Linked DNA regions of Homo sapiens. The protein of the gene in region 1 purifies or fractionates together with the protein of each later gene. This does not show direct contact. Each region holds a gene or a part of one and is shown in the gene's direction. Other genes may lie near its edges.

Region 1 (3,750 bases):
GGTCTTAGCTGCACGTGTGGCCACCACCACCCCTCGCTCCTCACCTCACTCCTCCCTTCCCCTCGCTCCGTTTCCCTCACGCCCTCATCCCCCAGCCCCCTCGTCCCCTTTCCTTCTCTGCCGAGCATGGGACTCAGGAAACCGGGATTTGCAGGATGCTCAGTTCTAGGGGCACCTTGGCTTGTGGGACCCTGTGTCTACTGTCTCTGTCCACTGCCCCCAAAGTCTCCCTCTGCCAAGTTAGCAGCCACATTATCCCATTCCACTGATCAGGAAACAGAAGGTCAGGGCAGCCCAGGGCCCTTCCCAGGTAGGAGGAGGAGGAGCCAGCACTTGCACAGATCTTGTGTCTGGAAAGGGGAAGCGGGACAGCAGGAGGCTCCAGGGAGTAACCTGAGGAAGCTGCCTTGGGTGTGTCTTGGTGCCATGCCTTAGGCGGCCACCAGGTGGCGCCAAACCCACACGCCCCCGTTCCAGGTGTGCTGAGCTGCACCGCCCCAGCCGTGCACCTACTGCGTGCAGAGGGTGCAGAGCGCGGCCGGTGCTCACCCGCAGCGGACAGGATGGGGGCGTGTTCCCCAGCTGATGCCGTCTGGGCCAGACTCAGATGAGAGGCCTTGCTTGCCTGATGGCCCTAACTTCTCCAGCAAGCTGGGGGCCGCGGTATCTCCTTGGCTGCATGTCCCATGCTCTGCCTGCCAAGGGACTAGGGAAGAAGCCTCAGGAAGGTAGACAGATGCACCCCCTATGTCTGCAGCACAGTCTCCATCCCCCCGGGCTCAGGCCAGACTGCTAGCTCCTGCCTTCCCTTGGCCCCAGACCCTCGCAGTCCCGCTCCTCAGCCTCTCCCCACCAATCTCCAGCAGATGTCCACCCCCAATGCCCTCTGCAGCCTCCCACCCCGCAGCCCCTGCTGAGGTCAGTCAGCCTGGGCCCTGCCATGCCTCAAAAACCATCCCATGGAGTACCTTGTGGCCAAACCCACCTGCCCCGCCTCTGACCCCACCTGTCCTGGCTCTGACCCCACCTGCCCCGTCGCTGACCACACCCAATGCAGAGCGTCCCTGGCACCTCTCTGGCCCCAAACGCCTGTTGTTACATGGTGGTCCCACAGCCAGGTTCTGCTTTTTCCCCACCCCTGAGCATCAGTTCCTGTCCTGGGTTCCTTGTGAGCTCAAGTAAGGGCTGAATGGATGAGCCCTGCCTGCACTCCTGGGGTTGTGAGCAGCCGGCTGAGTGTGGGGGTTCCCCCCTGGAGATGCCCCTTGACATGGGGAACCCTAGCCATCTGGGGTTCCTATGAACCTCCCAGCTCCCACAGTGGCCTCGGCTTTCATCTGTCCTCATGGCTCAGGGGTCAGAACCACCCTCGGCCCCCCATGCCATCATCTCTGCATTTATTGGATGCAACGCCATGGTGAGCACAGGGCAGGCGTGTCTGCACCACCTTGCAGGCCCTTGCTCACTGTGAGGGGTCAGTAGCTCTGTCTCACCCATGAGGAAACAGGCTCAAAGGGACCATGGCTACTCCAGGCCATGCCGGGGCTGAGACAGACCCCTCCAGCCAGCTCCACAGCCCAGCAGCTGCCCTCCCTGCTGGCTGCCACCTCTAGCACTGTCCTGGCATAAGCATGCCACCATGTCCCTGGGGCCTGGGCAGGGGGCGTGGGTGGCTTTCAGCTGCAGCAGCTCCATTTCTCTGCAGAGGTCTGGCCCAGACCAGCGGCTTCGCAAGGCCAGCGACCAGCCCTCCGGCCACAGCCAGGCCACGGAGAGCAGCGGATCCACGCCTGAGTCCTGCCCAGAGCTCTCAGACGAGGAGCAGGATGGTGACTTTGTCCCTGGTGAGCCCCCTTGGGCCCAGCCCCAAGGCCTCTGTCTGGTGGGGTGCCTCAGATGCTGACCTGGCTGGAGGGGAGGCCAGAGAAGCACCTGCCCAGATGTAGGGCAACCTCCCAGCAAAAGCTCCTCTGCTGCCCTGAGGGGCCCCCCAGCAGGCTCTGCCCTCTCAGAGTCTGGGAGGCAGCCCAAGGGCCAACGGGGGGAATGGTGGGGGTGGGGAAGAAAGGGAGTGGGCCCAGGCCAGGGGCTCCCCAGCGGTGGGAGGGGCAGGTCCAGTGGCATCCTGCCCCAGCCCTCTGCTCCTTTCCTGTCACCAGGAGCTGTGTCTCCCCAACTTTGTCCCTGCCTCTGTAATGGATGGGCCTTGCCTTGGCCACTTCTGCCTCCCAGGCCTGTTAGTGGCTGGTCCAGCCTGGGGGTTCCCTCCAGAAACATCCTCAGCACCCCTCCCTCATCTCCGTGTCTTCAGCTTGGCCCTGCAGGTTTCCCATGAGGTGGGGTGGAGGCCCGAGCTGGATATGACCCTGTGACCCACGTGCCAGCCCCACTGGACCTCCAGCTCATCCTCACTCCTCCCCTCCCCTCCTTTGTCTCACTCGGGGCCGTCCCAGGCGGTGAGAGCCCATGCCCTCGGTGCAGGAAGGAGGCGCGGCGGCTGCAGGCCCTGCACGAGGCCATCCTCTCCATCCGAGAGGCCCAGCAGGAGCTGCACAGGTGGGCCACACTCAGGGTGTCCATCCAGACTCCGGGTCAGAGAGTGCGAGAGACCTGGTAGAGCTAGGGCGGGAGGTGGGGAGGCCAGGAGGCCGCGGCTGGGGTTGTCATCGGAGCTGGAACCCACAAGACCTGCAGGGTGATGAAAGGAAGACAACCGCCGAGGGCAGGAGAGAGGGTGTGGGAGCGGCAGGTGGTGCGGGATGATCAACCAGCCAAGTTGGCCATGCCTGGCAGATACTGAGCTGGAGATGTCCTGAAGCCTAGAGGAAGGTGCCAGCCCAGCATGGCCTGGGGTAGCCCCAGGAGAGACCTTGAGGTGTGCAGAGCGAGGTGGCAGCCTGGGCTCACTGTGGTGGCCCCATACCTGCGCACAGTGGCTTCTCAGGAATGGCTGGGGAAGGAGCAAATGGGAGTGGCCGAGAGCTGGCAGGTGCAGGCCACCAGGGCCACATGGCCCCTTCCTGTCAGCAGATCCCACCAATGAGGAGCAGAGCACAGGGTCCCTCTCGGGTCCAAAGCTCCTGACTCTGAGCCAGGCTGAGGGTCTCACTGGCTGTGGGACCTTGGCTGTCACACCTCAGCCTCCCCTCTGTAAAGTGGGCTTGATAGCAGTACCCCAGGGTGAAATGCAGCCAGGGCACAGGCCCGGGCTCTGTGAGGCTCAAGAGCCTTGGGGAACTGTCATTGTCCCTGTGTAAGCATTTCCAGAAGGTGCTCCCTGGTGAGGCTGTGTGGGCAGAGAAGCAGGGAGGCCTGGCTCCCCAGAAGCAGGTCAGCTGTCAGGCAGGTGGCCAGGACTCAGCCAGAAGCTTCTGCAGCAAACTGGATACCGCCTCAGAGGCCAGGTCCTCCACGGCAAAGTACTCCAGCTCAGGGCCAGGGCCTCCACAGCAGAGTACTGCCGGCAAGGGGCTCGGACAGCGCGTCTACTCCCTCGCGGTCCCGGAGGCTGGAGTCCAAGATCTCGGTGCCACAGGGCTGGTTTATCCCGAGACCTCTCTCCTGCCTGGCAGACGCCAGCTTCTCGCTGTGTCTGTGTCTTCATCTCTTCTTCATATAAGGACACCAGTCCCATGGGACCAGGGCCCACCCTAATGGTCTCCATTTAAATAAATACCTCTTTAAGGACCCCATCTCCAAATACAGTCTTATCTAAGGTGCAAGGGGTTAGGACTCCAACATATGAAGGTG
Region 2 (3,750 bases), on another chromosome or scaffold:
CTCGCTAAAGCACTTCAGGTAGGTAACAATCTAGTAATGATATGTTTTGATATGTTTTGGTGAGTGTGTAATATAGGAGTAAAGCCAAGTGGCCTTTTAAGGCCAGGCTAATCAGGGCTTGGGCCAGAAGGCTATATTTTGTTCTGATTCCGTATCTTAATTATTGTGTTTTTAAAATCTCAGTTCCTGAGAAATTCCTAGAAGCTGGATTGAGAAATGAAAGTGATGTGTGTGAAACCCAGTAGAGTGGAAGATTTCTATTCGCTTCTCAGCATGGCTTTTTCCTAGGGAAGAAAACCTCCCTAGGAAACCAAATTTAGAATAGAAGATTGCTTAGAGAGTAAAGTCAGAACAAAGAGTTAGTGGATTCCAAAGTTTCATATCATTAGGCTGGAGAACCAATCTCTATTTCAGTTACTTATTTACCAAGGGGACCAGACAATTTGTGAATCACTAAGACAGGCATGACCCTGTTTTAAAATCTGCTGAATTTTCACTATGGATAATTTGGTTTAATGTAGCTGAATTAAATCCAGAGTCTTCCCAATCCTCACACACACACACACACACACACACACACACACACACAAAACAAAACCTGGAGCCTATTGTTATATTTGCCCTAATTATACCTCTCTGATTGTATACATTCTTGTTCTGTGGAAACTGAGTCATCTTTCTAGGTAATTCAAGCAAAACTTCACTTTAACCCGATTAACTCCTTCAACTCTTGTCTTATTATAATGACTCCCGGGGAAGATGCAATATTGCAGGAAACTAGTCCATCTCTTATTTGTTAGCAAAGTCTTAGCTTATAAAAACAAAATTGCGGGGTGGGGGAAGCCTTACATTTTGATGAATGCTTTTCAATGGGTGATAAAAATACGATTATTCTTGGTTGAGTAGAAAGAATATGACAGGTTCCTAGGGTAGATAAGAGTTACCTCTTAACTCTGAGTCTTTAAAAACTAGATTTGGATTTGCATTTCACCAGTTGTGCTGGTTCCAATTTGAATTCTAACCTTACCATGTATTTTAAGGCTGGACCATTAAAAAAAGATGGACCCATGCAGATAACAGTTAAAGATCTGCTGACTGTAAAATTAAAGAAGACACAGAGTTTAGATGAAAAGAGGAAGGTAAGATGTCATTGACCACATACATGCTCTTTTTGCTTTTAACAATATAGGCTCATGCCTATAATCCCAGCACTTTGGGAGACCAAGGTGGGAGGATCACCTGAGCCCAGGAGTTCAGGACCAGCATGGGGAATATGGCAAGACCTCATCTCAATTTGTATACAATTGGGGTCGGGGGTGCTGGAGGGAGAAGTCATTTCATTTCAAGTTAAGTTTTTGATGTTTTTATTTTAGTAGTTTTGGATTTCCCAACAAAATGTATATATTAGGAAATGATTTAATTAGGCAATTTTATCTCCCAACCCTTAGTCTGAAGAGGTAGAGACATCCTTTGAAGCTCTGGAATAAAAATTGGGTAGCATACTGGATATATCTTACACAAACTCAGCACTCAGATATTTGCCGTTTTTGCATGTTTACATTTTGAGTGATATTTTAAAATTTGTTTTAATAATGTCTCATTTTATAATTAAAGCTTATACCATCGCCGAAAGCACGGAATCCACTAGTTACCGTCTCTGACTTGCAGCATGTTACCCTGAAACCTAACTCCAAAGTGTTATCGACTCGAGTTACAAACGTCTTAATGTAAGGAACTGCACAGTACTATGCTCTACTACTACTTAAAAGAATGATATTGTTGTACAAAGGCCTAAAGAAAAGGAAAAAAAGATTTTTTGTGTGTATTTCTAATGTTAAAAGTTATATATGCTCATTATAGAAAAACTGAAATCTACAGAAAAGTTTAAAAAAGAAAACAAAAATTATCTAAATAATCCTATCACTGGAGATAGCCACTGTTAACATACTGCTGTTTATCATTCTAGTCTTTTTCTGGGCATATGGTTTATTGCCCCATTTAAAGATGCTGTTTATTATAAGATATGGCATTGATTTAATAACAGATTTTGGGAGAAAAAGATATACTATCAAGAATTTTAGGCTGGGAGTGGTGGGTTATGTCTGTAATCCCACCACTTTGGGAAGCTGAAGTAGGAGGATTGCTTGAGGCCGGGAGTTTAAGACCAGCCTGGGCAACATAGTGAGAGCCCCATCTCTAAAAAAAACTAATTAAATTAAAAATTAGCCGGATGCAGTGGTGTGTGCCTGTAGTCCCAGCTACTTGGGAGGCTGAAGAAAGAGGATCACTTGAGCCCAGGAGATCAAGGCTGCAGTAAGAAGTGATTGTGCCACTGTACTCCAGCCTGGACAACAGAGAGAGACTCCATCTCAAAAAAAAAAAAAAAAAAAAAATCATAACCTAAATGTCTTAAAACAGGATTTTATCTATGAAATTTACATACAATTAACTGCATATTTTGAAGATGTCAAAATGACACTTTAAGTTAATTTTCAAAAAGATAGGAAGAGTTCATGATATACTGAATGGGAAAAACTATATCTACAATATGATTATACACAGACAGATACACACATATACCATATTTGCTTGATTCCAAGACACACTAGTTTTCATATTATATAATTTCTGAAAGCAACCTGTTTTATTTATTTATTTTTTGTATTTTTTTATTTTTTGAGATGGAGTCTTGCTCTGTCGCCCAGACTGGAGTGCAGTGATGCAATATCGGCTCACAGCAACCTCCACCTCCCGGGTTCCAGCAATTCTCCTGCTTCAGCCTCCTGAGTAGCAGGGATTACAGGCGTGTGCCACAGTGCTGGCTAATTTTTGTATGTTTTAATAGAGACGGGGTTTCACTATGTTGGCCAGGGTGGTCTCAAACTCCTGACCTCAAATGACCCACCCCCCTCGGCCTCCTAAAGTGCTGGGATTTCAGGGGTGAGCCACTGCGCCTGACTTAGGTTATGACATTTAATTTCTGTAAGTCTTCAGTGGACATCCTTGCCTATCAACTCTGTACATGGCTGAGTTTTTCCCTAGGATGGATTCTTACACATGTAACTCCTGGGTCAAGAAGTATTACATATTGGAATGGCTATATCATCTTATGTTCCCATCGGCATCTACTGCTATTTTTTTTCTTTTTTTCTTTTTTTGAGAAGGAGCTCTGTCACCCAGGCTGGAGTAGTGGCACAAGCTCGGCTCACTACAACCTCCGCCTCCCAGGTTCAAGCAATTCTCTGCCTCAGCCTCCCGAGTAGCTGGGATTACAGGCACCCGCCACCACGCCCAGCTAATTTTCGTATTTTTAGTAGAGATGGGGTTTCACCATCTTGGCCAGGCTGGTCATGAACTCCTGACCTCGTGATCCATCTGCCTCGGCCTCCTAAAGTGCTGGGATCACAGGCGTGAGCCACCGCACCCTGCTTCTACTGCTATTTTTTAATGTAACACATAGAACTACTTTCTAGGATGTTGCCTATAGAAATGATTGCTTTCCTTTGGGAAAAAAATAATAAAATCTGGCAAGTTCTAATTTTTTTTTTTTTTGGAGACAGAGTCTTGCTCTATTGCCCAGGCTGGAGTGCAGTGGTGCAATCTTTGCTCACTGCAAGCTCTGCCTTCCGGGTTCACGCCATTCTTCTGCCTCAGCCTCCCGAGTAGCTGGGACTACAGGCGCCCACCACCACACCTGGCTAATTTTTTGTATTTTTAATAGAGACAAGGTTTCACCGTGTTAGCAAGGAT

Evidence for each region. Proteins that work in one complex are often made in the same cells at the same time.
Region 2: the proteins of OSBPL5 (region 1) and PRR11 purify together in Homo sapiens (co-immunoprecipitation; 3 studies listed by BioGRID and IntAct, with this or other methods). This does not show direct contact.

The regions. Positions count from the first base shown.
Region 1 is NC_000011.10:3,088,652-3,092,401, reverse strand, and holds part of OSBPL5 (oxysterol-binding protein-related protein 5), read left to right. Parts: intron 1-1,705; coding exon 1,706-1,844; intron 1,845-2,453; coding exon 2,454-2,556; intron 2,557-3,750. UniProt on the Homo sapiens protein: Lipid transporter involved in lipid countertransport between the endoplasmic reticulum and the plasma membrane: specifically exchanges phosphatidylserine with phosphatidylinositol 4-phosphate (PI4P), delivering phosphatidylserine to the plasma membrane in exchange for PI4P, which is degraded by the SAC1/SACM1L phosphatase in the endoplasmic reticulum.
Region 2 is NC_000017.11:59,193,717-59,197,466, forward strand, and holds part of PRR11 (proline-rich protein 11), read left to right. Parts: coding exon 1-18; intron 19-1,040; coding exon 1,041-1,139; intron 1,140-1,614; coding exon 1,615-1,727; intron 1,728-3,750. UniProt on the Homo sapiens protein: Plays a critical role in cell cycle progression.